Linked DNA regions of Homo sapiens. The protein of the gene in region 1 interacts with the protein of each later gene in a biochemical or structural test. Each region holds a gene or a part of one and is shown in the gene's direction. Other genes may lie near its edges.

Region 1 (4,304 bases):
GGGCTTTTTCCCACACACCAAGCAAGCAAGCAGTTCTGCAGAGGGCACACAGTGTCCTCTAACTCAGTTTGATTCTGATACTATCTACCTGGAAACAGCATCAGATCCCACAGTTTGAGGGCTCAATCCCACAAGACTTTCCCCCATTTCAGACACCAATCACAAGTAATAGTTTGTCACCTACACCTCTGACCAAGTGGCTATAAATTGGTGTTCCCACTACCCTCTCCTTGGACTCAACTGATTTGCTAGAGCAACTGACAGAACTCAGGAAAACACCTACATTTACTGGTTTATTTTAAAGGATATTATAAGGGATACCAATGAACACCAGATGGAAGAGATGCATAGGGCAGGGTCTGTGGGAAGGGTGGCAGAGCTCCCATGCCCTCCCAACGTGCACCACCCTCCAGGAACCTCTAAATGTTCAGCTGCCCGGCAGCTCCCCACACCCAGTCCTTTTGAGTTTTTAATGGAGGCTTTATTATGTAGGCATGATTGATTACATCATTGGCCACTGGTGATTAGTTTAACTTTTAGCCCCTCATCTCCTGGAGGTTGGGGCGTGGGACTGAAAAATCCTATCCTCTAATCATACCTTGGTCTGTCCTGTGAGCAGCCCCCATCCCGAAGCTTCCAGGGGTTCCCCAACCACTAATCATCTAATAAGCATACAAAAAACACTCTTACCACTCTGGAGATCTCAAGGGTTTGGGGAGCTATATGTCAGGAAACAGGGATGAAGACCAAACATGTATTTCACTGTATCACACCTGTTCTCACCCCTCCCCAGATCTTCTCTCAATTAATATGAGACAAAAAAATGAGTCTGACTTCTTGACCAAAATATCAGTTCTGTCCTTAGCAGCTTTATGGAGGACAGATTTAGTTTAAATTCCTTAGGCATTATGCCCCTGTGGCTCCACTCAATCAGAAATAGGGTCAACGGCAAGGTCAGGGCCTCCAATCTGGGCAAGAGGGAGGCAGCCACGGTATCCACAAGTGTAATTCTCTGAGTGCTGGTTGCTGGGAGGGGCACACCCTGGGCCAGCAAGTCACTTGGCCAAGGGTGGCCAACTGTGAGGTAGCACTGCCCTTTACTCCCTAAAAAAATGTGAATCTCTTTGGAGCAAACTCCTCTTCAGAAATTTGAGCACTTGTTTTCTGAGCAAGGGAATCAGCTAATGCTTTTGACTCCCCATCCATCTTCCTGCATCCTCGTCCCACCTCTCCTGCCCCCACTCACCTGGCTCTGTCTTTACCCACACCATGGTTTTGGTACAAGAACACCCTTTTCCCCATAAGCTACATTGGTCCAGGCCATAAAAATTCATTAGTTCCCTTTCTTCAGGGGCCTTCTGAAATGCTCCCTGGAGAACTCTTTATTCACTTCTTTGCACAAGAATCACATATGTGTGAACACTGGTATTGGCCTTCTAACTCAGTTTCTTCAAACCAGGGTCCTGGTCTGGTTGCCCCTGTCTCCTCCCACTGAGTTTTATCTCCACATAAGTATTGCTCACCAAGAACAGAGCTGTTGACACCACTGGGCCTCAAGCATGCTGAATGCATTGCTGCCAACTGCTCTGCCTTAAGAAGGTTGGAAACTGATGAGGGTGCCACAAATTGTTCACCTCAGCCCTTCTGGGCTGGTTGGAGGAGGCCCTCTCATGAATCAGTCAGCAAATGTTTGACCCCTACCAGGTGGTCCTGGTAATATGTGGTATGAATCATGGTCCTAGATGTCTGCCATAGCAAATAAAAAAGGAAGACAGGGAAAGAAGCTGTCGCCTACAGAGTGGCTTGATGACAGCTGCCTCACTAATTTAAAAAGCCATGTGTAGTGCTTCCTATTTCTCACTATGTTTGGGTGAGTGGGAGAGGGAGAAAGATTATATGGGCTTCGTTGTGACACTGTTCTTAGCCAGTGGGTCAATAGATGAGTTTTGGTTTTGTTTTTTAGAAGACAGGATGAGAAGAGAGTGCCCCCTTCCACCTCCAACATGGCATGCCATGCTAGGTGCTGAAGGAGTTCTCTAAGCAGGGATGGAGCACCGTGCGTGTGTGTGTGTATATGTGCACGTGTGTGTGTACGTGTGTGTGTGTGGCAGGTCTAGAGGGTCGATGGCTCTTTCCTGCCTCTTGCCCTTGGTATGGGTACCTTAGTGATGCATCATGGCCCTCCCTTAGGACACACAGCTTCGCAGTGCCAGTGAACCCACTCCTTTTGGCTCCTCCTCTGGAATGATAAGCCCAGATGCCCATGCTGCCCGTGAAGGGCTTCTTCTTGAACTGAATGTGGAGGGCATCTCTGGTCCCGGCCATCTGCCAGTGACTCTCATGTGCATTCATGTCCCTCTCTTCTCTCTGTCCTGTCTTCTCTGCCGCTGCCTCTTCTCTGCAGGTACACTTGCTGAAGGACCAGTTGGCTGCTGAGGCTGCGGCGCGGCTGGAGGCCCAGGCTCGCGTGCATCAGCTTTTGCTGCAGAACAAGGACATGCTCCAGCACATCTCCCTGCTGGTCAAGCAGGTGCAAGAGCTGGAACTGAAGCTGTCAGGACAGAACGCCAGTAAGCCAGTGCCCTGCCCAGCCCTGCTTCCTCTGTGAAGGCTCTGGAAAGAGTGTCACTTTCCTTAAGTTTTTGGTGGTGCTTTCTTGGACCCCTGACCTACCCCTATATTCCAGCAGAAAACATAGGCAGCTTTGTTTTCCCATTAGTATACTTAATGAATTACAGAATCACATGCCCAAAGGAGATCTCGGGTGCCTTCTAATCCAGGCCCAGGGCTGGACTTTGAATGTCCCCGGAGTCACTGCTATGTGCTCATCCAGTCTCTATTTGATAGGGGCTCAGGTACTCTGTGTTCTAGGGCAGCCCATTTCTTTCTCAGAGAGCTTTTGCAATCAACAAACAGTATACTTGGCACCTATTGGGTGTCATGGTCTCTGTGAGCTCTGTGGGAGACAGCAGATTGTTTCTTAGTTTACTACTCTGCACTATGTATTTCAAGACTCTGTCACACAGAAAAAGCTGGGAGCAGTATATCTGTTCAGTGGATAAGGCAGTGGAATCTGGCTGCACTGCTCTGCTGGGCAATAGCAGAGGTTGCCTGGCCCCTGCTTGAGAAGCTGTCTCTACACTCAGTACCCCTGGGCTGGGCTGGGCAGCTGTAGATCGCAACACATTTTCACGCCTTCCTCTTGAGCCTTTCCGTGGGTTGTTTGCATGCTCAGAGTGTGTGTGGGCTGTGGACCAGCAAATAGCCATTGATCACATATTGTGCCAGAAACTGTGATAGAATTTTTTGCCTGTGAGCTCATTTAATCCCTGTAGTTCTGCTGCAGAAAAATGGGATGCCATTTTACAGATGAGGTAACAGACTCAGGGAGGTTAAGTAACTAGCTCAAGGTTATAGGCCTAGCAAGGAGCAGAGCCAAGATTCAAACCTAGATCTGATTGCAAAATTTTGTTCCAACTATACCAGTGGTTCCCCCAAACCATCCCATGAGCTCTTTTAAAAATGCGTCTTTCCTACTGAGATCCTACATCGTTCTGTCTAGGGCTGGTCTGGGAGCCTGTATTTTTAAAGTAGCCCAGAGGTGTGGATTGGAAACCAGTGCCCTTCACCACTCTGGAAGCCTCTCTGGATTTTCCAGATTGTTCATTGAAACTCTGCTCTATCCTAATTAATGCTTATTTACATGATTGTACTAAAGGTTACCACAGGCTTCTAACATGGTTCTCTCAATTGGTACCTTTTTCCTACCACTAACCCTATTCAGAGCCTTCAGTGGCTACCAGAACCATCATATGGTTCTTATGTCCCCGCCTTTACCACGTCCCAAAGCTCCTCCCCTCCAGCGAGGTGTGTCTGGAGCTATGTGGGGGCGGGAGGAAGGGTGAAGTGTTAAGAGACCCAAAGCCCGGAGAGGTGCTGCTAAGCTGGTCTGGGAAGGGCTTTGGCAGGGCACGGGCGGGCAGAAGGCGGGCATCCCAAATCAACAACCTTGCCTAACGCTGCCCCTCTGCTACCTCTTGTCTCCCCTGCAGTGGGCTCCCAGGACAGCTTGCTGGAGATCACCTTCCGCTCCGGAGCCCTGCCCGTGCTCTGTGACCCCACGACCCCTAAGCCAGAGGACCTGCATTCGCCGCCGCTGGGCGCGGGCTTGGCTGACTTTGCCCACCCTGCGGGCAGCCCCTTAGGTAGGCGCGACTGCTTGGTGAAGCTGGAGTGCTTTCGCTTTCTTCCGCCCGAGGACACCCCGCCCCCAGCGCAGGGCGAGGCGCTCCTGGGCGGTCTGG
Region 2 (4,304 bases), about 120 Mb from region 1:
CAGCTGGTGAAAAAGCTGATGATTATCATTGCCCGCCCAGCACGTCTCCTGGAATGCCTGGTGAGTGGACTCTAGGAAAGTCAGGTGGGCAGATTTAGAGGAGGACTATAGAGGAAGTATCCTGATGACAGCAAAACTGTGGTGGTAACCACTGCCATTTCTGTTGCTTAGGTCCTTATTTAAATATGATTTGCCACCATTGGGGGACTAAACAGGTTTTTGTGAGGACAAATGTATGGTCCTGAGGGGATGCGGCAGGGAGAATTATTAGTCTAGGCCACCCCCACATGAGCAGGGCTCACATCAGTGGGGGTCTTGGGGGTGAGAAGCGTCAGGAGCATAGCCCAGTTTAGTTTGTACAAGTTGAGTCCTTCATTTTATCTTCAGCAATACTTGACTGAGTACCTACTTCCTGCTAGACACTGGAGATACAGACATGAATAAAGCACAGTCTCTGATCTTGGGATGTTTCCTCTACAGTGGAGTTGGGAAGCATGAGGCATGAGGACATGTAAATAGTAATTACAATACTGCAAGAAGTGTTGCAGTTGAGGTCAGTACACAGCGTAACGGGAACCTGGAAAAGGAAGTGCTTTAGTCTTCCCTGGAAGGAACATTCAGTGAATGCTCCCTGGGGGACGTGAGGCTTATTCAGCAAACTGAAGGATGAGTCTAAGTTTCCCAGATCGGGAGCATGGGAAGGAGCATTCAGTGGGGCACAGGGTGGGTTTGAAGAAGTGCTGAGGGGTAAGCCTGGAAGGTAGGCTGTGACAGGGTCATGGAGGGTGTCGGGTTCTCGGCTCTGGAGTTTTTCATTACCCTTACGGCCACTTGGAGACACCAGAAAGTTTAGGTAAGAATGTGACATGGCCGCATTTACTTTTTTCTTAAAAAATATTATTAAGGTATAATTTTCATACAATAAAATATATCCCTTTGATGGTACAGTTCATTGAGATTTAACAAATACACACTTGTAGAATCGTGGCCACAGCTGACATAGAGAATATTTCTGTCATATAAGTTCCCTTGTGCCCCTTTGAAGTCAGTCCTCTCTTCCTCCTGCTCCCAGACAATAACTTAACTGCTTTGTTTCACTAGGGATGGGTTTGCCTTTTGTACAGTTTCCTAGAAATGAAACCATGTTTCTGTGTGGTTTCTGTAGTATGTTCTGAATTCTTTCACTCAGCATGTTTGTAGAAATTCATACATGTTGTTGCATGTATCAGTAATTGGTTCCTATTTATTTCTGTGTAAATATTACATCAGATTTAGTCCTAAGAAAGATTACTTTGGCTGCAACATGGATAGTGAATTGGAAGAGAGGGCAGGATGAGCCAGGGACATCAGGGGAGAGGTACTCAAAGCAAATTCATGTGAGATGGGGTGGCCAGAACTCAGACAGTGAATGGTAGGATAATAGAGAGAAAGAGGTGGATTAGAGGGGTATTTATGAGAGAGACATTCTGACCAAATAGGAGCTAAGGAAGGATAAGAAGTTAAAAGGACTTCCAGGTCTGGCGTAGGTTATATCCAGATAGGTACAGTTCTCCAAAACAGTGAGGCCACAGGGAATGAGAACAGAGTTCAGGGCAGAGGCTATGCTGTGATAGAGCAGAGAGCCTCTCCCTCAGGAACATGAAGTCCTTGGCTAAGCAGGGGCTTGGAGTCAGACCTGGGCTGAATGCTGGTTTTCTGTTCCTTCCTACTACTGTGATTATGGACAAATCAGTGCATCCCTGAAAGCCTTGATTTCCTCAGTGAGGTCAAAGAGTTGCTAGAGGGTTTAACCCAGTGTGTGGCACTTAGTAGGCACTCAGTTATTATGTGCAGACAAGGATTGTGCTTTTCAATGGATTTCCAGCCTCTAGCACATAGGAGGTGCCCAGTAAATATTTGAAGGTATACATGCACCAGTAGGGCTTTGCCAAAGCTCTTGTGAGCCATAATTGAGTGTGTGCCAGGACAGCTGTGGACTGGGCATCTGAATACACCAGACAGTGCCACCTGGCTGATGGAAAGCATGGGACCAGATCAATAGGCTGAGCTCTCTTTAGAGTAAAACCTCTAGTTCTTACTGCCAGGAAGACAGCATATGCTTAGCATGTCCAATCTGGAGGTGACCTGTAAGACATCTTTGTCCCCATTCCTGTGATCCCTGAATCATGTTGTTTCTGAATATTCAGGGGTGGGAGTGTCCTATCACAGAGAAAGTCTTGTTCATCTCAGTCTACTATATGCTGTAAAACCAAAGATGCCAGCAGCTTTCGCTTATATCTGTCACCACTGACTATCTCTCTCCCTTGGTACAGGAGTTTGACCCTGAAGAGTTCTACCACCTTTTAGAAGCAGCTGAGGGCCACGCCAAAGAGGGACAAGGGATTAAATGTGACATTCCCCGCTACATCGTTAGCCAGCTGGGCCTCACCCGGGATCCCCTAGAAGGTGAGCATGCTGCCTAGTGGCTGCAAAGAGGCCCCACTGCTGCTGGCAAGCTCTAACAGCAGGGAAGCTGCTTGGAAAAGAGACTTAGCTTGGACATGGACACAACATGGCCCCGGGGGCCTCAGGATTTTAGGAGATACCCTGTGATCTCTGTGACAAAACAGTCTTTACTTTGGAACTGCTGTTCACATCTGCCTGATAGATCCCAACCTGGATTGCATTGGCCCGGCTGAGTTGCATTTAGAACCTCAGTTCCAAAGAGGTCAACAACAAAGGGCCACAATCACATTTGCAAAAATGGTCACCTCCTCTGCAACTTGCCTCTACTCTTGGCCACCTTACAGGTCTTCCTGTGTCTTTGGGGTAGTCCAACACAGGGCTTCAGAGGATACTGCCATTCTTCTGGGCTTCCTGCTGAACCCCTGCAGCAACCATGGGCTTCCAAGTCCCTGGTCTGTAGGTATCCTGCTCCTGCCTTCTGTGCTTCCCAGCCCCATCCAGTGAAGCAGTCTTGGCCAGCAGGATGGGAACTAGTAACCCAGTTTCAGGCCCTGTTTTCCAGGAAATGTCCCCAGTTTATAGAATTTGCCAGGCCCTGTGAATGGCAATGGACTTCTGGAAATGGGAGTAGCAGTAGGATTTGGCTTGTTTCCTGATCCAAAAGCTGGGACTACATTGGGTATAGTGCCATGGGACTGAATTCACATCCTAGGCTGATGCAAAAAGCATTAATGACTACCCTACATGCACCTGTTGTGTGATCTGAGGATACTGCTGAGATACCTGACATTGCCACGCACATTCTTCTCTTGTATCTTTGTTTCCAGAAATGGCCCAGTTGAGCAGCTGTGACAGTCCTGACACTCCAGAGACAGATGATTCTATTGAGGTAAAAACCCTGAGCTCCTACCCCATTCCTGGAGCCTGGGCCCTATGAAGCAAAGAGCTATGAATTCTCTTTAAGAGAATATCTGAGGAAGGGATGGGGGAGTTGGTGACAGCAAACACTGAGAAGTCATTCTACTCCCAGAAGAATGAGCAGGAGACTGCACTAGAGCTGACAGCTGAGAAGATGCTAGAGCCACAGCTTCTGCAAGGATATGGGCTCTGAGAAGCATGCCTGTCTCCTGCCTTTTCCCTTGTCTTCCAGGGCCATGGGGCATCTCTGCCATCTAAAAAGACACCCTCTGAAGAGGACTTCGAGACCATTAAGCTCATCAGCAATGGCGCCTATGGGTAAAGGCAGGGGTCAGGGTGTGGCCAGGACTGAAGCCGGGTCAGCCTTTGATCTCTTCCATGTGAGAGTGTATGCTGCCCAGTCCTCTGGGCAGATGCCTCGGGGTGGACCTTCTCACTCCCAGAAGCCTCCTGGGTGGGCAGGAGTTCAGATTCCTCTGACATCCGATCATTGTTCCTTTCCCAGACAAGATTCCCACGCCTCTTACTACCACGCATCCTCCATTCCCTGAGCTCTGGGGAAGCATTGAGCCGTGTCATCAGGACATGGTCTATCAAGAAGTTTAAGAGTTCTATGGACCAGGGGGTCCCAGACCCTTCTCACTGATATGCATGCCCTTGCCCCCTTGTTCTGTGCATTAATTAAGGTGTGAGAGAAGGCAGTTTGGGTGGCAGAGAGCACAGCTCAGGTGCTGAGGGTCCATGGGGGATGGGCCGGACTTTGTTTCCCAGGGCTGTATTTCTGGTGCGGCACAAGTCCACCCGGCAGCGCTTTGCCATGAAGAAGATCAACAAGCAGAACCTGATCCTACGGAACCAGATCCAGCAGGCCTTCGTGGAGCGTGACATACTGACTTTCGCTGAGAACCCCTTTGTGGTCAGCATGTTCTGCTCCTTTGATA
Region 3 (4,304 bases), on another chromosome or scaffold:
TGCTTCAGTAAAAGGGTGATATGGCAAAATTTCAAAATCCTGAATGGAAAGAGCTTCAGAGGAATTCATCTGGATGCAACAGTGCATCATTCTCTGAGATTTTTGACTTAAGAGAAGACAGATGTGCAGGCAGCTGAGAAATGCTGTGCTTCCTGTTCTTTGAGTATCTAGAATATAGGGTGTAGGCTACAGCTTGTATTAAAACCAACGATAACAATCCCACCTCCCCTGCCAGTTGAAACCCCTGTCTGATGCTGACTTGTAACTATTCACATGTGAAGCTTCTGAGTTACTGCTTTGTTGTTTTCTTTGCTCCAATGTAGAATTCAGAAGGATGCAAAAGGAAAAACAATTATTAAAGACGAGGATGGCATTTATTCGTTCTTATAAAAATAATTTATTTAGTAGCTGCAGTCTCTGTTCTCTCTGGCTTTCCCTGGAAAAAGACACCACTCCAGACTGTCCAGGGCTCCCCTGGTACCTGTGAATGTGCTGTTAGTTCCTGGTCTGGTTAGAAGATGATGTCTCTGTGGAGATACATACTTGGCCTCTTTCTTTCTCCCTGGGGTGAGGGACATTTTATGTATAGGAGATGGAAGAATAGACGGTCTCTTTCTCAAGCTCATTCCTGGTTATTTTCAGTACTTAGCTCTTTGCAAAAACTGCGTAATAAGTGTCTTAGTGAGAGTGTGCCTTGTTTATGTGCTGAAAACCTAGATTCACACATATGTTTCCAGATATTTTAGCTACCAGCATAGACCCTCAAACAAGACTGCCAGCTCCGGAGATGATCAAGTACAGCCTTTGTGTGGTGCAGGAATTCCCCTAGCATACCCAGCCTCCCTCTGCTTGGACCTACCAACCCCCACCACCTTCCTATTCCATCCTCAGTTGGCTCTGGTTATTACAAAGTTCTTCATTATTCCAAGCCAAAAATCTTCCTCTCGGCAATGGTTGCCCCATTGGCCCGATCCTGTCCTTTGAAGCCCCACACACAAAAAATCCATTTCTTCTTCCCTATGACAGCTAGTTAGGCCACTTGGACCTTCAAAGACAGGGATCAGGCCCCCACATCTTCACTTCTTTAGGCAGAATGCCCACTTTATCTGGCCCCCTGAAAAGCTAAGAATGGGACACCGCTGTGCAGGTGGGGGTCTGATCAGCCCAGACAGGAGCAAGCCCACTGCAGCCTCACTTCGGAATCTATATTTGCGTTAGCACAGCCTGAGGCCAGTTAGGTCCCGGTGGGTCCCCCTTCTGAGCTGTGCACTGGGCCACTACGGAACTGCATGCACTTTGGCGTCAGAGAGACCCGAGTGTCCTGGCCCAGTGGTTGACGTGGGGTCGGGTGAGTGAGCCCCCTCTCTGGGACTCAGATCCCTCATCTGTCTGACTACTTCTTAGGTGCTGTATTTTTTCCTGTAAATGCTGTAACAAATCACCTCAATCTTGGCTTAAAACAGCAGAACTGTGTCCTTGAACAGTTCTGGAGGCCAGAAGTACAAAATCGAGATGTTGGTAGTGCTGCTGTCCCACTGGAGTCTCTAAGGGGAATCCTTCCTTTGTCACTTCCAGCTTCTGGTGCCCACTGGCATTTCTTGACTTGTGGCTGCATCACTCCAGTCTCTGCCTCCCTGGTCACGTTGCCTCCTCCTGTCTGTTTCAAATCTTTGTTTCACTCTTATAAGGACACTTGTCCTGAGATTTAGGGTCCATCTGGATAATCCAAGGATAAGCACGTCATCTAAAGATCATTAATTTAATTATAGGTGTAAAAATCCTTTTTCCAAATAAGATCACATTTACAGGTTCCTGGGATTGGGACTTGGAATTATTTATTTATTTATTTATTTTTGAGACTGGGTTTGGCTCTGTCACCCAGGCTGGAGTGCAGTGGCATGATCAAGCTCACTGCAGTGCTGATCTCCTGGGCTCAAGTGATCCTCCCACCTCAGCCTTCTAAATTGCTGGGACTATAGGCGCACACCAACTGGCTAATTTTTAAATTTTATTTTTAGTAGAGATGAGGCCTTGCTATGTTGCTCAGACTGATCTCAAACTCCTGAGCTTAAGCAGTCCTCCTGTCCCAGCCTCCCAAAGTGCTGGGATGACGGGTGTGAGCTACTACATCCAGCCAAGACTTGGATATCTTTTTAGGGTGGCCGCCATTCAGCCATTGGCTCTCTACTTTCTCTACTTTTGCAACTCCCTTTTGTTTCTATTGTATTTGAACCCAGCTCTCCAGGGTCACTGGCCTCAGATCCTCAGGCCACATGTCTTCTGTCTCCTCCTTCCTTCAGCATCCTGGCTGCTGCTCTGAAGGGTGCCGGGGCTGTTCCTATCACTCCTGTTGTACAGATGTGGGTGGGGCCCTCAGGGATTAGGCTGCCTAGGAGAAAGCTCAGGTCTTTCTGGTGCATACCCTCATTTCCACCAGCATGCTATGGCGAGTCCAGTGGAGGTTTTGTCAGTGGGAAGGAGAAGCTGTGGCTATTAAAATATTCATTGCCGGTTCTCAGACGTAGGGAAGATCCCACAGTGAATGTGCTCTGGACAAAGAAGGGACACATAGTGGAAGACTTATGTCTTCACATTTTCCCACTAATTTAGACTGAGATTGGCTCACTGAATTTGAGGGAAATTATATTCTCAGTGCCCAAATACTCTGTAAAAAATCAGGAAATGCTCCTTGACAACCCTGTAAGGGCATAGTAGTATCATCTTCTTGCCCTACAACTAGCCTGTTTCAGAAGTTCCATGGTCCTTTAAGTGTGATCTCCAGTCTGCTGCTGGCTTCTGGGCTCTCCAAATGCAACTCCCACTAAAATGTGCTTTTCTCCACAAAGAGAGTGCGCTGCTTTGTTTGCAGTTGACTTTTCAAGCACTAAAAAAAAAAAAAAAAAAACAAAACTGAGGGGCAAGCAGAAGAGCTGCGTCTGGTGAAGCTAGTAGTGGAGCTGAGAGAAAGCAGGGGGAGGGTAGTGGCCTGGGAAGTTCTGGACACTGAGCAGCTCCAGACTCTCCACTCATTGCTGCCCCCAGGATTCCTGTCCGACGGCATCCTCCTAGATGGCTGCTGCACTCATTTCAATGTGCTTTGCTAAGAAAGGCCTGTGTGGGGATAGGGGCTGGGGAGGAGAGGCGGGGAGGGAGGAGAGAGATGAATCAGACAGTCCCTGCCCCACCTGCGGCTGGAAGTAAGTCAGTGCTGGGCAGGGTGCTGTGCTTTGCAGAGACCCTTGGGAGCCTAGCAAGGGCTGGCCATGCCTTGCAGGGAGATCTAGGAGGGCTTCTGGGAGGGACTGGCATTTGAACCGAGCCCTAGTGGGTGACTAGGAGATAAAGAAGAGAAAGATGGATAGAACAGTGTATCCAAAGTTGACCTCAGGTGGCCCCCTTCCTGGTCATCATCCGATGGAGCTGCACTGGAAGAAGCTCAGGTCTTACAGGGACCTTAAGGACCATCTAGTAAGGAAGATATTCAGACTGCACTGCTTAGAGACCTCCGCTTCTCATTTCTCTTAAAGAACAGTGATTTTAAAGTAGGTTTAAACAATGGGTTTAAAGAACAGTGATTTTCCATTTTGACAAGGCTTGTTTGGTATAGCCACTTCAAAATATCCCCACATCAAAATATGATGCTTTATCTGGGATATCTTTTCCAGACTTTGGGAGCCTTCCCTCCTGCACTTTCATTTCTGCAAGGCAATACTCCCCAGACAGTGTGGTCATGGGGTGTTGCTGTGTAACCTTCCCCACTTGACTGTGAGCTTCCTGGGCAGGGACCGAGCCTTGCTGCTCATTCAGTACGGAGCCCAGAAGGAGGCCTGGGGGGTACAGTGTTGACCGATGAAATGAATGAATGCATGGCTATGACTACTTCCTTAGCTGCATCTGGCTCCCAGCTGCCTTCATTGGTCTCTACAGTCATCAGTAGTATCCTGGCTAAGTCAAGAGCATATGTGGGCCTCTGTGTTTCTCCATCTTATATTCTCTCCTGGAGTTGGTTTGCTATATCAGCCAAGTTAGTAGAGACTTGGAGGGGTGGTGCCCCCTCTCTGCACTTTCAGAGGATAGGGAGGCGGTGGACCTAATGTCCAGCCCCTGGAACTGCTGCCTGTTGTTCTGTGACATGGCCAGACTGACCTGGGAACTTGCTAATTCGGTCCAGCTGGCTCTTCTTGGTGCCTTGTAGTCTTAGTACTAGAGTCACAGAGGCAGGAGGGTGCAGGGGGAAGTACCCAGGCCTTTGACTTCATCAGGCCTGAGTTTACCAGTTGCATGATCTGAGGCCCATTGTTTAC
Region 4 (4,439 bases), on another chromosome or scaffold:
AAGGTAGGCAGAAGGCAACAATCACATCAAGTCTCATTACCCTTGAAACATCACTTTGGAAGGAGTGATGTTATTTGCCCCTTGGTGTGGGAGCAAATCACTTTTTGTTTGGTCGAGCCTCAGATGAAGTTAGGAGGCTTGCATTTATGGGCCATGCTGTATGCAAAATGTTTGTCTTTAAATGCTGGCCCAATAGAAACAGAGACAGATTGAGAGGATGAAAGATTTAGTTCTCCCACTCATGTGCACTTCAAGGCTTACACTTATCGGTTGGAAAGTTGGTCTTTGCAGAATGTTTAAGGTTATCTTTCTCTTTCTCTTTTTGCCTAGCACATATCATTAAACTCATGTAAGTAAAATGCACGTAAGTTCAACAAGCATCACTTTGTGAAAGTGATGGTATAAATCTTGATGGTCATTTATTTAAGAAAGCAAAATAAAGCAGGACTCCTGGAAATGAACCTAAAGTTATGATATACCTTCTGGGGAAGGGCACTGCCTGGAATAGCAAAAGATAATTAGGAGGCCAGAGATCTCACTCAACTGCAGGGGCCAGGCCAGGTGTGATGTCAGAGTAGTTAGGGAGGGATGCAGTTGCCAGGTGAGGGAGATGTCATGCCTGCTCTTGGGTTGGAGTGTGGCTGAGGGGAGTGAGGGAGGCAGCAGAGCCTGGGCTGGATCCTGGGTGCTGCCTCTAGCAGGATTCTCTTTACACCTTACAGGCTCCCAGGGCTATCCTTGGGTATCCCCAGATACCCAGGGGTATCTGTCCACACTACTGTGACAAATCCTAAGTATTGTACTTCAGCTCAGATTTATCATCTGAGCTTCAAATCTGGCAGTCCGTTGAACTTGTTTACTTTGATGTCTTAGAGATACTGTAAATCCAACCTGCCAAAACTAAATGCAGTTGTCAGGAGCAGAGACCTGGGGCTCCCAGCTGTGTCATCAGGGCTAATGGAGACCTCAATATGGGGCCTGATGTTGGAGAACTGGAGACATGAAGGGACACAAACCCCAAACTTTGTTGTGAGTTTAACCGTAAGTAAATAGGACAATTATAATACCTTCATATTTCAAGCCTGAAATGCCCAATCTGCTTCTATGAATTTCCTCCTGAAAGGCAGAGATGAATTTGGTGGCCCAAGTCTTTAAAGGACAGCTGTCCAGAAAAGTTGGGCACAGTGTCTTTTCTCAGTAAACATTCTGTAGCAAGCAGAGCCTTCAGAATGGTTTCACTGACTTCAGAGCTGAACTGGGATTCCTCTTAAAAATACCCACTGAAGAGTTTCAGGACTTGGTGGGGACCCTGGTTCTGGGGTCCTGCTGGTTTGTATGGGAGACATGGCTGGCCAGGAAGCCCACGTGAAATCTCCAGATTCTCCTCTAGTTATCATCTGTCTATAAAAGCCTCCTTCTGTTGGACAGCTTGGTGGGCAGAGAGTGAGGGCAGGAAGAAGCTGAGATCATTACACAGAATCAGGGGGTGAGCAGAGAGCCCCGTGTACTCCGACAGCATCAGGGTCTTGCTGAAAGTCCTGCTACATTAGCCATGAGCTGGCCGGCCTTGAACCCTGGGTGAAGAACTCCACCTCTTTACCCATCATGTCCACATGCAAAACATGAGGCTTGCTGTGAAAGAATGTCTCTATCTTAATGAAATTCTCCAAATTTCCAAGTCTTGCCCTTTCCGTGAAATAGGCATACAGGCTTCTGGTGCCTCTTTATTCCCTATTCACCCTTTCCCTATGTCCACAGTTGAGCCCCAGGTCAAATCTCCAAGGGCAGCCTGATGGCACGTGCAAAAGGATAGAAGGAAAGGCAGTCGTTCTCCCAACTTGTGGTGGGATGATGGCCAAGATTTCACCCTTGGGACCACCAAGTCCCCCTGGACAAGTGGGGAGCAAATCGCTTTTTCTTTGGTTGAACCTCAGATGAAGCCTTGCCTCTTGCCTCTCAGGCTGATGGCTTCCCTAGGTCTCTGTCCAGGCAGAGCCAGTAGCTGGAGCTCCGAATCAAAACCAGAGGGCAAGGAGCTTATTAGAAGAGGTGGAGGGAGTCTACGGGTGGGAGGTGAGGTGTGGACACTGAGGCAGCTGCAGTGGCCAATGGACACACACAGCTGCCATCTTCCACTCCTCAACAAGGCTTAGTGAGCTCAGAACGGAGGGAAGGGGGTGCTGCTTGAGGTGGTGGGGACAGTGGTGAGCCTAGGCCTGGGCAATAGGCTAGATTTCCCATTCTTTGATAAAACTTCTTGAATGTTTCTTTCCCATGTTTATAAGAAAACACAGTTTCTACATGATTTAGCCAAGCTTAAAGTCAATTTTCCCTGCAAATGCTCAAGAATTAAAAATGTCTTTTGACAGTGAGTGTTCCTCTTCAGTCTTTGTAGAATAATTTCTTTTTTATACACTTGAGTGTGCATATATTTACATGAAATTCACTATTTCACATACCTTGTAGCTCTCATGAGTGGAAATAATGTCTCTTTCACAGTGAAGCTCAGTTTGGGACAGATGCTTCCGGCTCTACTGGGGAGGAGGACGTGCTCTCTGGGTATCTAAGGGTTTGTAGCTATTGGGGTGCACCAGAGCCAATTTTAAGAGAAAGAGGCAATGCAGGAAAGGAGAAGGAGAGCAGCAGCACATAATAAAGCCAACCCATTGATTTGGGTGGGGGTAAGGAGGCTGAGAAATGAGGATCCATGTATTTGCTAAATCTTTGTGCTTTTCTCTTAGATATTCCTTCTCATCTCCTCTAACCAGACTTTCGACAGATATTTTCTGAGCACCTTCTCTGCATGTCTGCAGTGCTGTGTAAAATGCCCTACCTTTGCATGGACTATTCTTTCTAATCAAGAGGCGTGTGTGGCGAACTTGGGGCAGCCCCTGGAAGTCTTGTTCTTTGACCATTACGTCTGCGGCTGCATCACCAGATAATGAGCTTCACCACTCGTCTGCCTCCTGTGTCCTTCCGCGGGGAGTAAATGTCACTTCAGCTTGCCGCATCTCTAAATAGGCAAATTTTCAGTGCTCAGAAAAGGACCTGATCTTTGCACAAAGTGCTTTGATGGTTGCCTGCTTGAGTCACTCCCAATCCCTTCCTGAAGCCCTTTCTTTATAATTCTTCTGTTGAAATAGCCATCATATTCACAGTACTAATCACAGCATCTCACATTTACTAAAAACTTACCCCATACCAGGAACCCAGAGTTGGGGGGGCTGTGTCAGAATTATGTAATTTACGTGTCCCAATAATCCTAGACGCTTCTTGACCATCTAGTTTTGTCAAATGAGAAAACTGAGGTTCCAAAGAAGTCAATAAACTTGTCCAAAGTCTGACCGACTCTGCTTGCCATGTGACGAGTCTGTCTTAGAACTGGGTCATTGCCCTGCTTGCAATGCTGTGCCCTCTGGCAAGCCCCCCCATCCCCCCGGTCTCCTGAGCTCGGTAAGGTGCTCCAGCTGCTTCTATCATAGCACTTCCTACATGGACTGTAACATTTCTTTACTGCTCCAACTTCTCATTAAATTGGGGGCTCCTCAAAGCCAGGGTTGGTGCCTTATAAGTTTCTTGCTTCCTGGTGCCCAGAGCAGCCTCTGGCATGAGCTGTTTGAACACTGGCTGAGTCTCACGGGCCTGTGTCGTGCAGAGTATTCTAAAAGGCAAGGGGAAGGTGGGGTGAGGAATTTTTTTTATCAAGGCTGGAAGAAACATGGGCTTCTGTATTCTAGTCCTGAATTGGATGGGGAGGATGGGGAAGGTGACATGTACCATCCATGTGGAGCCCCTTCTCCCACCTCGGAGGATGAAGAGTATCTTACCATCAACTCTACATGCCAAGGCCAGCTACCCTGTGAAGAATGTTTGGAGGCAGATTCTGGGACCATTCCCTTGCCACAGTTCTGCTCTTGGGGCACTGTCCCAGAGTCTTTGCCTCCAGAAGAGTCCCCAGAGAGTGGGAGTGAATGGGAAGACCTGGAGGAGCCTGTGGCCCTGGAATACGGTGCCCTCAGGTGGGTATCACTCTGGCTGGGTGGACTGGGGCTGAGCTCTGACCAGAGCAGGGCTCAGTGCTATCAAGCCACTTCAACTGGGGGTGGGGGATGGTCTGTGGGCATTGCCCAGTTTCCCCTGCATCTTCTTTGGGGGTCATGCGTCATTGTAATGGCCATTTTCACAGAACACTTACCATGGCCCTTGCACCATGACAACGACCTACAACATGGGGACTGTCATCACCCCCATTTCACACATGACACATTTGGGGCTTTCCCAAGGTTATCCAATAAGTAAGTGACAGAACTAGAATTCAAACCTGATCGGTTCCCCACTCCACGGCCCACCTGTCGAGCACCCATCTGTTCTGCCTCCTATGTACAGGAGTGTGCATCTCTCTCCTCAGGTCTCTCTCTTTTGGGGGTCTGAATGTCTAG
Region 5 (4,304 bases), on another chromosome or scaffold:
GTCCCCATTATTGACAGCTTTCTCCTCGTATTGAAAGCTGCAAAGAGAAACTTTCTTATTTGACATGATGGTGTATAATAAAAGGGAAGAGGACTGAAACGATGAGAAGGACCAGTGGCCTGGTGGAGGGGAGCCATCCAGAGGGTCAGAGGCATGGGGTCCTGCCCCACTGATCTCCTAAGTTGGGGCAATGCTCTTGAGACCTGGCCGATCGCAGATCCACGGGAAGCTACAGGGTAGTGCCACAAGGTCCCAGGAGACTTTCCGCCAGCTTCCCTCAACGGTGACATCTTAGGTAATGGGTGCAAAACCAGAACCAGGAAGTTGATGTGGGTACGAGCACAGAACCGCCTTCCCCAATTTATCGTGTGTGTGTGTGCGCTTCGGCACCTTCTAACAAGCACCCGGGATTACCTTCTCAGAGTGTGCACCACGCAGCTTCTGGAACACAGAGCTTGGCTGTTCTCCTTGCTGCCAGGCTAGTTGCAGAGTCAGATAATCAGACAGACAGGCTCCGCTGGGCCCGCGCAAAAGCAGAAGAGGGGTGTGCAGGTGTCTCAGTGTGCGCGGCGTGGGGTGGAGCTCGGCTAGTGGCTTCACTTCTCCAGGCCTGAGTTCCCCCGTGTGTCTCTACTGGGAGATGAGATGGAACTGGATCAAGGATGTCAGAGTCCTTAGCTGGGCTCCAGTTGTCTGCAGATCTCTCTCCATCAAATGCATCAGTTTGTGTGTGGTGCATATGGTGTAGTAGTTTTTACCAGGTGTCTGCAGCTTTTACCAGATTTTTAGAGGCCATGTGACCATCAGATCATTGGGCTCAACGACCTTGGAGGCTGTGCTCAGCTGCACATGATGAGCACCCATGCCTGCCCTGGGGGAACCTCTGGTCCCTGGCACAGCTGAGCCTCTGTTCCGTGTACTCCAGCCCTGGGTCTCAGCACAGGACTGCCCTGGTCTTGGTCTGCACTGGTGACCTGCCTGAGCCTTCACAGTCCTGGTGGCTTTGCACAGATGTGCATGCCTTCCCTGGGACCCCCCTGCCAGGATCTGACTCCGGTCCCCGCTGAAGGTAGACGGCTAAGCCTCCCTCTCTGTGTCTTCTCCTTCTCTCTCCTAGAAAAAGCTCCCTGTGTTGTTGCTGGGTCACTCGGCCGACCTGCGGCCTGGGGAGTTTGTGGTGGCCATCGGCAGTCCCTTCGCCCTACAGAACACAGTGACAACGGGCATCGTCAGCACTGCCCAGCGGGAGGGCAGGGAGCTGGGCCTCCGGGACTCCGACATGGACTACATCCAGACGGATGCCATCATCAACGTGAGTCCCAGGGACAGGAGGCCGGGGCACCTGCCATCTGTGCCCAAGACCTCAACCTCGAGGTGGTCTCTGACTCGGCTTGCCCCCCTCCCCAGAGCCATTCTGGCACTCGACACATCCACTTGCTAGAAAGTTCTCTCTTTACATTCGGTGGAGCTCTAACCCTGTGACTTCCACCCCAGGGTGCCAGGCACGCTGGGAGTCAGAGGCTGCTGTCCTCGCTCGGGCAGCCTTTCAGAGAAACAGAGGCATGGCCACAGCCCGCAAACACCTTTGCCCAGCTTACACACCCTGGCCAACATTGCTTTTCATTATTATTGTGATTATGTTGGTGGCACGTTTAGCATTCACAAAGCACTTCACCCAGATGCCCCAGATCACGTCCATCCAGCTTTGCCGCAGCTCAGGCACTTGGCTGGAATCCGAGTCTTTGTAGAGGGCCCCCCCAGGCCAGCAGGATGGGAAGTAATACCCCCATTCTCCATGCACCAGGCGGTGCTGCCTGGCCTCCGGGGTGTAGATGCCGAAGCGTATGGTTTGTGCAGAGAACAGTGACAGTCAGACCTCGGTCATCAGGCAGCCATCCACATGGCCTTCTTATCTGTGAAATGGGGGCAGCACTGAGGCCTTTCGATGCTGCTGAGGATGAGACCTGCTTATGTGTCTCTGCACTGGTTAGAGGCAGATCTGGAGAAGGGGCTCCAGGAAGCCTCAGGCGGGGTCAGGCACAGCTAATGCTGTTTCCTCCCCTTGCAGTACGGGAACTCCGGGGGACCACTGGTGAACCTGGTAAGTGTCCCCTAGAGCCAAAATCTCTCAGGTTTCTGGGGTTCTTCTCACATGGGGGTGCTCAGCCTTGAGGTGGGACAGGGCCCACAATATGGTCCTAGAACATTTACACCAACAGTCGGGAGTGCAGCTGGGCCGGAGGCCTGGAAGGAGGAAAGACCAAGGCTGCCCCAAGCGCCTCGGGGATGCTAGTGGCCACCAGGAATGAGGACTCACCCATGAGCAGCAGCTCAGTCCAGGGCCATGTGCCTGTCAGGGGAGCTGGGGCAAGGGAGACGCAGGTGTGGGGCTGCTCACCTCAGCCCTCCCTGCCCTGGATGTACACACAGGATGACAGGGGCACCCTCATTCTCCCCTTCCCAGTTGTGTCTTGAGCCTCAAAGTCAAGCTCAGCCTCATCCCAGGTGAGATTTTTCCAGAATAAACCAGGAAGCTCAGTTCAGAGCTCCTAGGCCCTGAAGGATCGGACGGTCCCACCCCTGAAGCTCCTATCCATGGCTGGGGAGGTGTCCAGATGTGAACAAGCCCAAGCACCATGTGAGCCACATGAGATAGCTCTGGAGGGACGCTGGGCAGGAAGACCTGGCAGCTGATGTGAGATCAGGGAGGGCTTCCTGGAGGTGAGAGCATTATACAACAGCCATCGAGATTGAGGAGGACTGGGTACAGGAAGAAGAAATCCCAGGGAGAAGGCACAACATGAGCATTGCAGGAGGCTCTCAGAGGCTTAGGGAGGGGGAGGTCAGACAAGGGGACAATGAAAGGGGCTGGTGGCCCATGTCCTGCTGCCTCAGGCCTCGTGTGCAGATGGGGCTTCACCCTATGTGCCCAAGATGTCTCCCAGGCTTTTGGCAGGGCTGAGGCCGTGCCCTGGTTTCAAGGAAGCTCGTGTGTGTGGTTTAGGCTGGAGGCCAGAAAGCCAGGCCCAGGAGGCTGCTCCGCATGGTCCAGGCAGTAGAGATGGGCACAGAGGGCCGAGGGTGGACACAGAACTCAATCTACTGGATCTCACACTCGGATGCTCTTCCTGCCTCCTGAGCTTCCAGGGACCAGGAGGACAAAGGGTGCCTTGACCCAAAGCTCTGCCCCAGGCCCCAGAGGGATCCCTGGTGAGCTGGCCAGGCCCTGACAGGGAGGGCAGGGCTAGGGGTATAAGCCAGGCTGTGGGGTGGGGCTCCTTTCCAGGAGTGTGCCTGAGTGTGAGGTCCCCAGGGGCCAGGTCAGATCCTGCCCAAGTGGTACCAGCCTCATGGGGGGCAGGGCAGGTTTGGAGGGTCTCCAAAGAGAGGGATGGGGGGGTCAAGGAGCTCCCCTGGTCCCACCTGCCAGCCCCCCACTTCTGGAAGGTAGGGATAGACAGGGTCTCTGTCCCCGACAGGCCTTACCATGTTCCTCCCTCTCTCGGTCCCTCCAAACATGGCTTGGCGGTGTCCTTGGCCCAGTGGCCGTGCTTCTTAGAGGCAGAGTGGCCAGAGCCTGGGGGCAGGCCCGAGCTGCAAGCTTCCCTGGAAATACTCTCCAGGGATGGGGAAGGGGGATCTCCAGGATTTGGAGAGGTAGGGTCACTGACACAGGTGTGATCCTGAGAGTGAGCTTTTCAGGGGAGTTGGGGGCTGTAGGGGGATTGACAGCTGGGGTCAGCCTCTAGAAACAGAGCTGTGGACACAGTGCTTTGTGGGCAGGGGTTTGCCTGGGTTCCCCCAACTGATGCCTGCTCTTACCTCCCTGCCCAGGATGGCGAGGTCATTGGCATCAACACGCTCAAGGTCACGGCTGGCATCTCCTTTGCCATCCCCTCAGACCGCATCACACGGTTCCTCACAGAGTTCCAAGACAAGCAGATCAAAGGTAAAGAGCTCACCTGGAGGGGGCCAGAGGCAGGGGGCACTCTCCCAGGGCTACAGCCCCTTAACACCCCAGCCCTGGGACCAAGGCCCACCGGAGGTGCTGGGTGAACTTTGCTCACTACTGGACAGGTCCTGTCTGCCCACCCCAAAGCTGTGAGACCCCCAGGACAGCTTATCCTCAGCCTCTTTCAGGATCTTCCCCCTGCCTATCATCGATTCGTGATCGGCTTCATCCCCTGCCCCTCCAAGGCTGTCTCCTTTTGGCTGGGGAATCTCCGAGCTCAGCTCCCACCATCAGCTTCCTGGACTCCCTGGGCTCCTCTCATTTGGGCTGCTCTTTAGTTGTCAGGTGTTTC
Region 6 (4,304 bases), about 17 Mb from region 1:
TCAGGGAAGGTAAATACATAAAAGAACATGAGTTCGGGCCGTATAAACTGCTATTCGCCCATAAGTTGTTATTTTCTTTTCACTCTCTGTTTACATTAATTTATCAAATATTAATTTGGTTTGTGTTTTGTAAAAACATCCTCAGTGCCTTGGAGAAAGAATATCATATGAAGCAGACAGGAATTCTTTAGTGAAGGAGTCTACCATTTAGTAGATAAGAGATATGTCCATAATGAAGGGAGATAGAGGTTAAGTACCTTCATACAGGGGCAGATCAAGCACTGTGATAATTCAACGTTAGAGTAAGCTTTTCTCACTAAAAAGGTACCAGAAGCCCTCATAGTAGGGGTGGCACTTGAGTTCAGGCTTTGTAACATGAATAGATTTGGGAAAGTAGACAGAGCTGGGATAAGGAAGATCATTCCAGGAAGGTGGGAATCATGTGAACACAGTCAGGAGACACTGGCACAGTTTAATTGGCACATGATGTGTAGTACAAGAATTCGTTGGAAAGGTAGGTTGGAGAGAGGTGACAAGGGGACTTCTATGCAAGACTGATGAGTTTGAACTTGGCTTATCAGACAATGGGGAGTTGTTTTTTGAGCAGTATAAGGGAGAAGAACAAAAACCAGCCTATAATGTCTTGGGGGCTTTGCACATCTCAATTACTCCTAACAATTATGCAAGAAGAACTGCTGAAATTGAGGGCTTGGAGAAGATACAGTAATTATGTAAGGTCAAATAGTTGTTTAGTTCCAAAGCCCATGCTCATTCTGTTGCACCAGGAAGTGACTTGGTTAGGAATGTGCACCAAGATGGATCTGAAGGCAGATCTGTATCAGACAGAAGGACTGGGGAAGGGAAAGCAGTAGGTAAGGTGCTGTAATAGTTTAGGTAGAATTCTAGGCAGGAACTAATACAAACTGCATTCAGGGTAGAGGAAGTGGGATGTGTAAGGTATTATGGTAGCATCAGAGGACTTAGCAATCGTCTAGATATGGGGACTGGATGCTGGGGAAGAATCAGTTGCCAAGTGTTGGTGACTGGGATGATGTTGCTCCACTAACAGGTAACCAAGAGGAGGGGCTTTGGGATGGAGAATGGGCAGAGCTGATTTTTGGCTTGAATACATTACAGTTGAGAGATCTATGAGATATTTTGTTGGAGATACCCAGCAGCTAGCTGGAAAAGTGAAACAGGAACTTGTTAAAAAAAAAAAAAAAGGCAGCATCTGGTGAAGATACCAGAAGGCCAAAGCACATGGAGGCATGTATATACAAATATATTCAAAACCGAACACACCCAATTGCTACTAAAATGCCAGCCTGGGTTTCTTAAGGTCCAAAGTTTTGGGTTTTGTTCTTTATTCTTCCCCATCTTTTATGACAGCTTTTACATAAGACGCGTGGCTACAAGTATGCCCACTGACTTTCTGGGAACTTGCAGCCTTTTAATATGCTATTTTGCCAAAATCAAATGTCAGACGCTTTTAGTAACAGGATTATTTTCGTTAAGACCCCTTCATTGTTAATTGCTGGGTTAGTTTCTGGGGTGAGTTCTGAGCAGGAAACGAGCCTAGATAGTGTGCTTATAAGCTTCCTGGGATGCTGGTGGAAGGGGTGGTAGTTGTACTCAGCATGCCTTTTTTATCTGTTTCATCAGGGCTTTGGGCTCCAGCAGAAAATCTGTTTTATTTTTTTAGGGGACTTACTGATAATTTTATTTTTTGGGGTTGGGGGAGGGTAGGTCAAATCATCAAGGACATAGATTCTGGAAGTCCAGCAGAGGAGGCTGGCTTGAAGAACAATGATCTGGTAGTTGCTGTCAACGGCGAGTCTGTGGAAACCCTGGATCATGACAGTGTGGTAGAAATGATTAGAAAGGGTGGAGATCAGACTTCACTGTTGGTGGTAGACAAAGAGACGGACAACATGTACAGACTGGTAAGTAATACAAGGCCATATATTCATGCATTAAGGCTGGGCCCATTCACTCATGACCTCAACTTTTGCACTGAGTTAGGACTTTGTTCCTCAAACTGGAAGAGGCATAACAATCATCATTAAGGCTAAACTGAAGCTCAACTCAAATTGGTAGTGATAAGAGAATGCCAAATGATTGATAAATGAGTTTTAAGTCCTTGGTCTTAAGATTTTGAAAGAATTTGTGAATATAACTGCAGGCTTACTCTTGGTGATCTGAGAAAATCTATGGAGAATATAAGCCTGGAAATAAAATTGTTCCCAAAATAGGAAACAATTAGATTTTAAGCTTTAGGTCAGTTAAGTGCTATCAACTGCACATAAAAGCCTAGAAAGGATTATTAAACAACTTGTAAGCCCTTAGCAAATAAAAAAGAAACACAGATAGACCAAGACCAACCTGAATCAAACTAACTTTATTTTCTCTTAACAGCTCTTTATCATAACACCCACTACTGCATGTTTTAAGGTTTTTTTTTTTTTTTTTTTTTTTTTTTTTACTTTTAACACAAGAACTGAGGTTGTCTAGTTTAACAGATAACCTGGGGGGCCTTCTAAGTACCATCTGTCTTGCTAAGTGTTGATTGTAAAGATGAACAAGATAAATGTCCTCTGTGATATACAATGATAGTAGAATCTAAAATAAGCGGTACAGAGGGGGGAATATGATGGGTGGTGATATCTTAGGCCCTCCTCATAGATTAGGAAACCGAAGCTTAGAGAGACTAAGCACTTTGCTAAAGTCACGCAGCTTAGTAAAGACTGAAGGTGGTATCTGAACCCAAATTCTTGGACCCGTAATTCATTATACCATACTCCCCAGCACATTTTTTCAAGATAATCTTGTAAGCAGGATTAAACAATTAATTAGATTAATGGCTTTTTTTTTTTAGCTACTTGAACAATCATACCTAGAAAATACTTGATATCAACCTGAATATCAACTTGAATAGAAGTCTCTAATGGCATGCTACTTGTTCCTAACCGTTTATGTGCTTAAAGTTGAAAGGAGATATGGAAAATATATTAACATACTTAAAGTGGCACTAGATAATTCATTTGCTGGATGGTGTAATTAATACTCAAAATATTTAGTTAGGATAGAAAGAATGAAAACTAAAGAAATAAGAATAAATTTCAGATGTACTATACTAACCTAAAAGTAAATTGTATGAATACCACATGGTGAGACCTGATTTGAGGACTACAGAAAAAGACCAGAAACTTCATAGTCCAAGTGGTTGCCCCATCCAAATATGGTAATTTAAAAATTAACTGACAGACACTTGGCTTCTAGAGATGACCATCTTACTGTACTTACTTGGTCAGACCATACTTGGAATACCTGGTAATATAGTTACCACCTCTCTCTGTGCTTCAGTTTCCTTAGTTGTAAGAGAGGGGTAGTAGCTACAGCGAAGGGTGGCTATGAGGGTTGAATTGGAATATTCAGAGCATGTAGAATAATGCCTCACACATCTAAATGTTCTATTTGTTCAATCAATATTGTGTCCGGTTTCAAGAACTTCACTTTAAGAAGGCAATGACAAGGGTAACCAGGGAAGAGGTTTTGGAAGCCACCATGTGAGTATTTAGCTTGAGTAAGGCTTTGGAGAAGAGAGCATCTTCAAGAATTTGAAAGGCTATTACATGTAAGAAGGAGCACACTTTTTTTTTTTTTTTTTGAGACGTTGTCTTGCTCTGTCACCAGGCTGGAGTGCAGTGGTGCCATCTCAGCTCACTGCAATCTCCACCTCCCGGGTTCAAGCGATTCCCCTGCCTCAGCCTCCTGAGTAGCTGGAATTACAGGTGCGCACCACCATGCCCAGCTAATTTTTTGTATTTTAGTAGTTTTACCATGTTGGCCAGGATGGTCTCGATCTCCTGACCTTGTGATCCGCCCGCCTCGGCCTCCCAAAGTGCTGGGATTACAGGTATAAGCCAACACGCCCGGGCCACACATTTTTTTTAAGGTGTCCTATGGGGCACAACAGGACCAGAGAAGCCATAGGGAGCTAGCTTTTGGCTTAAGAACCAACTGAAGCTGCCAGAAATGATGAGTCATTTTGCAGTTGGTGGAAAGTCAAGCAGAAATCAGAGGCGGCTGCTGCAGCTGTTTGTTGTAAAGGGGATTCTGACCCCTCCTGATCTTATCATAGAATGATTTAATTGTAATTTTTCTGTTTTGGTTAATAGAGAACTTTGATCGAAAAAGAAGCCTGCCCTCATCATCTCCTTCCCCGCTCTCCAAAGTAAGCCCTGTAGGTTGGGGTGGAGGGTAGATCTTTGAGATACATCAGTGAGTAAAACACAACCCTCTAG
Region 7 (4,304 bases), on another chromosome or scaffold:
TGGAACTTAGTCTTTCTTTGGTACTGACGAGGGGAGTCTGGCTGCTGTTGCTGCAGATCTCTGCTTTAGGTAGAAAAAGAAGTGTTTTTCCGTGAATAGTTTAAGCACAGCCTTGGAAAACGACCTTACAGAGTCGTAATTCCAACTCCCGGAAAAATCTCCTGCCTTTACTGTTCTCTTATTTATACCCTCCCTTTCACTACTCTGAAGTTCTGTGAGCTGCTCTGGGGTGTCAGGTGGGTTGCGTTGCTGGTTAGGGTAGCATCTAGCATCTAACATCTTCCCAAGGGCCCAGAGATTTTACTCCAGACTTCCTGAAAATTTTTGAGCAGGCAGGACAGAAATCATAGAAAATACATTGATTTATGACACGCATATACTCTGTTGCCTCTCACCTTTTTTTTTTTTCCTCGTGTTTGGAGATTGAAGTATTCGGAATTTACTTCTATTATGAATATACTATGTTTATCATTGGCGGTTCCTGTAATTTGTTCTTTAAATAGACTGAATATTGTTATCCTTTAAATTTTACTTTTGAGATGCCTATGTTTTCATTGAAGGGTTGAGGATTACTTTAGACAATAACATACCCAAATGAACCCTCATTCACTGTCTCACTTTCTTTTGCACCGGATGTTAAATTTTAACTTCATAGTCCTTGAAACAAGGGCTGGCTCTAAGTGTGTGAGTTTTGGCATTTTAATAAAAATGAATCAGAAGTTAAATTTTGGTTCATAAAGCAAGCGGAGAAACTTGCTTCATGCAGCTTACTTCATGTCGAATTAGAAAGTTTATGCAGAAAACGTTGTGAGGTACAGTGTGCTATTACTGTACAATTTATTAGGCAGAACTGTAGGTTTACATTTAGAATCAGTGTTTTACTTTTTGACATCTGTAAACACCTGCTTGCAGGCAAAAGCATGATTAAGTGGAACACCACAATCCTCTGATCACGGTAAACCATAATAACTCCTTTTGGAAGGCCTACCTGCAACCTGGTGATTGCTTAATGTGTATTGCAGTTACATAATAATATGTATTGTGGTCCTGAAGCCTTATTTGTCATTGTCTTGTGAATACTTTAATTAGCATTGTATTTGCATTCTGTTTGCAAGAACTAATGTTATTTGATTTTTTTTTTTTTTTTTGGTCATTTAAGAGATGTCCTGAAACCAAGAATTTAGACACATCTTGTCCTTGGCTAGCAAGCAGTATTTCCAGTTTGTTGCACACTTGGCTTTTATTAACAATGACAGTTATGTATTTTTTAACGGCTGTGAAATTTGTTTTCATTTGGACCTTACTGCTGGCAGCATGGCTATCTTGTTTTTAAGTTTAGCAATGAAGAAAACACAATATCACCTGTGTTTTGCTTATGTGAAATATATATACAGTATTTAGGTTTGGTATTAAACTACAATATTATTTGACTTTCTAAAGAATAGGTATTTTGCCTAGATTCTATGTGGAAGTGGAAATAAAGGGGATATATGTTGTCAGAAAACATTTTAAAACCTCAGGGTTGGGAGTGAAGAGAACTTGTGTAATTATTGCCTGTATTTAGTTGTGACGTGTTTTAATCTGTGATTGATGCTTCTGATACACATTAAATCTTGTGAATATTTTTTAGTAATAGGGAGTTAGTTGCTAATGAAATACTTTGGGCTGATATTTAGGTTTTTGAACATTGCATTTAATTTTTGTCGTCAATTTTATTAGAAGCACTACATTCCACAGTGGTACTATCACTCTTTAAAAAATTTTAAAAATCAATAATGTGTTTGGATACTACATTTATTATTGTGTTTTTAACTAACAAAGAGATGAGCATGTGTGTCTTAATAGTAATGCTGTTAATCAGCCAAGAAAACCTAACTTTATAGGACAGAAGAAATCAATGTAATGAATTAACAGGAGTCTCTGTTTCATGCTTTATCTAATTAGCCAACTCCACCTTCTCTGAATAAGGCCTTGTGCTTTGTTGAAAAACAATCAGAGATTTCTTGTTCATCTTAAGCATTGCAATTTTATTGTGTTGATATATGATATACATTTAGGCCTCCCCACCCCCAGGATATATTGGAAGCCTCAAAACAAATAAACAGCCCTCTTCAAATAAGAAATTAGGACAGTTCAGTAGAATATGTCTTGGCATTATACAGTAAGGATGGTCCAGATGGTACTCACACGAATTTATATACTTTTATACATCTCAAGGTGTATTTTTAAAACTTGAAATCACTCACTCTGAACCTCTTAAGTGATTTTTGGGGTGTGTGTGTGTGTGTGTGTGTGTGTGTGTGTAGTCCGTGAAGTCTTCTGACACCAATCCTTGAGTAACTTTGCTCACAAAATCACTTTATATAGATTCTTCTGTTGAATCCTCTATGATATTATCACCCCTTTTCATATCCATATAGCTTCATCTTTCAAGGTTTAACTTTTTTTTTAAGCCAAAGAAGAGAAAACTTTCCCTCAGCTTTCTTAACCACATGATTTTTTTTCCATTTCTAACATTTATTTCATTTTTTATCTGTAGTCCATACTCTTGTCCAGTAATAGAATTTTTGTCACTTTATTATTAAACTTTTTACTAATGCAAATGAACTTATTTTTGTTTTGCTTCTTGACCTAGGCTAAGATTATTCTATGACTGAAATGTATTATGGCTGATGAAATACACTTGTTGGTTGATTTTGAAATACTGTAAACAATACAATAAGACATTTTTCTGGGTACGAGTTTGTATGAATCCATGTGTTGACTCTTCCTTCTGGAATGCTGGACAGTTTGCTTTTGCTTTCATCCCAGACTCCCTAGTTCCTTCTCAGGCGCTCTCTCTTCTCCTCCCCTCCTTTCTATCTCCCTCTCTATCTGCCTCTTTTGTAGGGTTTTTCTTCCTCTTCTTGCCCCATTGTTGGTTTTATCCAGAGCCAAGGCCTTTCCATTCCTGTATTCTCTTTCTCACTCCCTGGGTTTTATTTTGCACTCTCCTGTGTGCTGGTGACTCCGTATCTACCCCTCTATCTCAGGCTTTATGGTTGATCTCTAGACCTTTTCAGCCAGTTGCCTATTTACCGAACACTTTTGGGGGATATTCCCCAGGCATTGCAAACTCATCAGATTTCACCGCTACCGCTGACTCTCCCTCTTCCTGTGCACCTTCTTTCGCTGAGTAGCACTACCATCTATTTATTGGTCCAAGTCAAAAACTAGGTCAGCATTCTCACTCTTCCGTCTCGTCATTCCTCATATGCAAAGTCTTGTGGAGTCCACATTCCCAATACCCACTACCCCCACCTGAGTTCAGGTCAGCTGCATCTCACTGATGAACCACAGAAACAGATTCCCTACGGAGTTTCCCAATAACTTAGCCTTGTCCCCTTCCGCAGCTCTGTCCCTACTGTAATCAGAATGATCCTCCTGATGGGCAGATGACCTGAGGTCAGGAGTTGTACACCAGCCTGAGCAACATGGTGAAACCCGGTCCCTACTAAAAATACAAAAATTAGCTGGGCGTGGTGGCGCACACCTGTAGTCCCAACTGTTTGGAGGCTGAGGTATGAGAATCCTTGAACCCGGAAGGCAGAGGTTGCAGGTAGCCAAAATCGCGCCACTGTACTCCAGCTGATCGTTACATTACCTCCTATAAGACAATTTTCTGTCTTCCCATTTCCTTTGAAATAAAATTCAGACCTCTGTGAAGTCTGAAAGGACTTTGGTAATTTGGTCCGCGCTTCTGTCTCACTTGTTACTTCTTTTTGTTCTTCCTAGATTGAACTCCTGTCAGGTCCTTTCTTCTACCCTTCCCTCTACTGTCCCCTGTTCCTCCTCCCTCTGCTCCATGGCTGATTTTTACTCATCATACTGGTCTTTTCTTCAATACTGCTTCCTCAGGAAAGCCTTCCCTGACCCGCAAGACTCTTTCAGTTGCCCCTAGTGTATTCTCTCAAAACACCCTGCACTTTCAGGAATACCAGTTACAAGTTTATCTATATCCCCCTTGGATTGCAGTCCCTATAAGAGCAGGGACCATGTTTGTTTCCACAGGGACTGACACATAGTAAGTGTCAGGTGATATTTTTTGAATGAATAAATGAATATGCAGGAAAGGCTTTACATTTTATTCAGTGTTCATTTAGATTCCCGGACATTATACTCTCTTGATTATCTTCCTTCCTCGTTGTCACCTCCTTCTGTCTCTTTGAGGTTTCCTCGACATCCTGATTTGCTAAACCTTTCTACACCTCAAAGCTCAGTTAATCCTCATTTCTTCTCCCAATACTGTTTCATGGTTTTAAATA

What was found.
Region 2: the proteins of NOS1AP (region 1) and MAST2 interact in a test that uses a peptide from one of them, tested with the Homo sapiens proteins (one large-scale study listed by IntAct).
Region 3: the proteins of NOS1AP (region 1) and FRMPD1 interact in a test that uses a peptide from one of them, tested with the Homo sapiens proteins (one large-scale study listed by IntAct).
Region 4: the proteins of NOS1AP (region 1) and FRMPD2 interact in a test that uses a peptide from one of them, tested with the Homo sapiens proteins (one large-scale study listed by IntAct).
Region 5: the proteins of NOS1AP (region 1) and HTRA3 interact in a test that uses a peptide from one of them, tested with the Homo sapiens proteins (one large-scale study listed by IntAct).
Region 6: the proteins of NOS1AP (region 1) and PDZK1 interact in a test that uses a peptide from one of them, tested with the Homo sapiens proteins (one large-scale study listed by IntAct).
Region 7: the proteins of NOS1AP (region 1) and ARHGAP21 interact in a test that uses a peptide from one of them, tested with the Homo sapiens proteins (one large-scale study listed by IntAct).

The regions. Positions count from the first base shown.
Region 1 is NC_000001.11:162,363,000-162,367,303, forward strand, and holds part of NOS1AP (carboxyl-terminal PDZ ligand of neuronal nitric oxide synthase protein), read left to right. Parts: exon of another isoform or gene 1-2,350; coding exon of another isoform or gene 2,351-2,404; coding exon 2,405-2,570; intron 2,571-4,052; coding exon 4,053-4,304. UniProt on the Homo sapiens protein: Adapter protein involved in neuronal nitric-oxide (NO) synthesis regulation via its association with nNOS/NOS1. The complex formed with NOS1 and synapsins is necessary for specific NO and synapsin functions at a presynaptic level.
Region 2 is NC_000001.11:46,019,638-46,023,941, forward strand, and holds part of MAST2 (microtubule-associated serine/threonine-protein kinase 2), read left to right. Parts: coding exon 1-60; intron 61-2,312; coding exon 2,313-2,445; intron 2,446-3,272; coding exon 3,273-3,334; intron 3,335-3,595; coding exon 3,596-3,681; intron 3,682-4,134; coding exon 4,135-4,304. UniProt on the Homo sapiens protein: Appears to link the dystrophin/utrophin network with microtubule filaments via the syntrophins. Phosphorylation of DMD or UTRN may modulate their affinities for associated proteins. Functions in a multi-protein complex in spermatid maturation.
Region 3 is NC_000009.12:37,657,030-37,661,333, forward strand, and holds part of FRMPD1 (FERM and PDZ domain-containing protein 1), read left to right. Parts: intron 1-4,304. UniProt on the Homo sapiens protein: Stabilizes membrane-bound GPSM1, and thereby promotes its interaction with GNAI1.
Region 4 is NC_000010.11:48,155,673-48,160,111, reverse strand, and holds the end of FRMPD2 (FERM and PDZ domain-containing protein 2), read left to right. Parts: intron 1-2,741; coding exon 2,742-2,790; 3' UTR 2,791-3,550; downstream 3,551-4,439.
Region 5 is NC_000004.12:8,290,253-8,294,556, forward strand, and holds part of HTRA3 (serine protease HTRA3 isoform 1 precursor), read left to right. Parts: intron 1-1,117; coding exon 1,118-1,312; intron 1,313-2,068; coding exon 2,069-2,101; intron 2,102-3,834; coding exon 3,835-3,949; intron 3,950-4,304. UniProt on the Homo sapiens protein: Serine protease that cleaves beta-casein/CSN2 as well as several extracellular matrix (ECM) proteoglycans such as decorin/DCN, biglycan/BGN and fibronectin/FN1.
Region 6 is NC_000001.11:145,676,088-145,680,391, reverse strand, and holds part of PDZK1 (Na(+)/H(+) exchange regulatory cofactor NHE-RF3), read left to right. Parts: intron 1-1,746; coding exon 1,747-1,943; intron 1,944-4,178; coding exon of another isoform or gene 4,179-4,234; intron 4,235-4,304. UniProt on the Homo sapiens protein: A scaffold protein that connects plasma membrane proteins and regulatory components, regulating their surface expression in epithelial cells apical domains.
Region 7 is NC_000010.11:24,717,099-24,721,402, reverse strand, and holds part of ARHGAP21 (rho GTPase-activating protein 21), read left to right. Parts: intron 1-4,304. UniProt on the Homo sapiens protein: Functions as a GTPase-activating protein (GAP) for RHOA and CDC42. Downstream partner of ARF1 which may control Golgi apparatus structure and function. Also required for CTNNA1 recruitment to adherens junctions.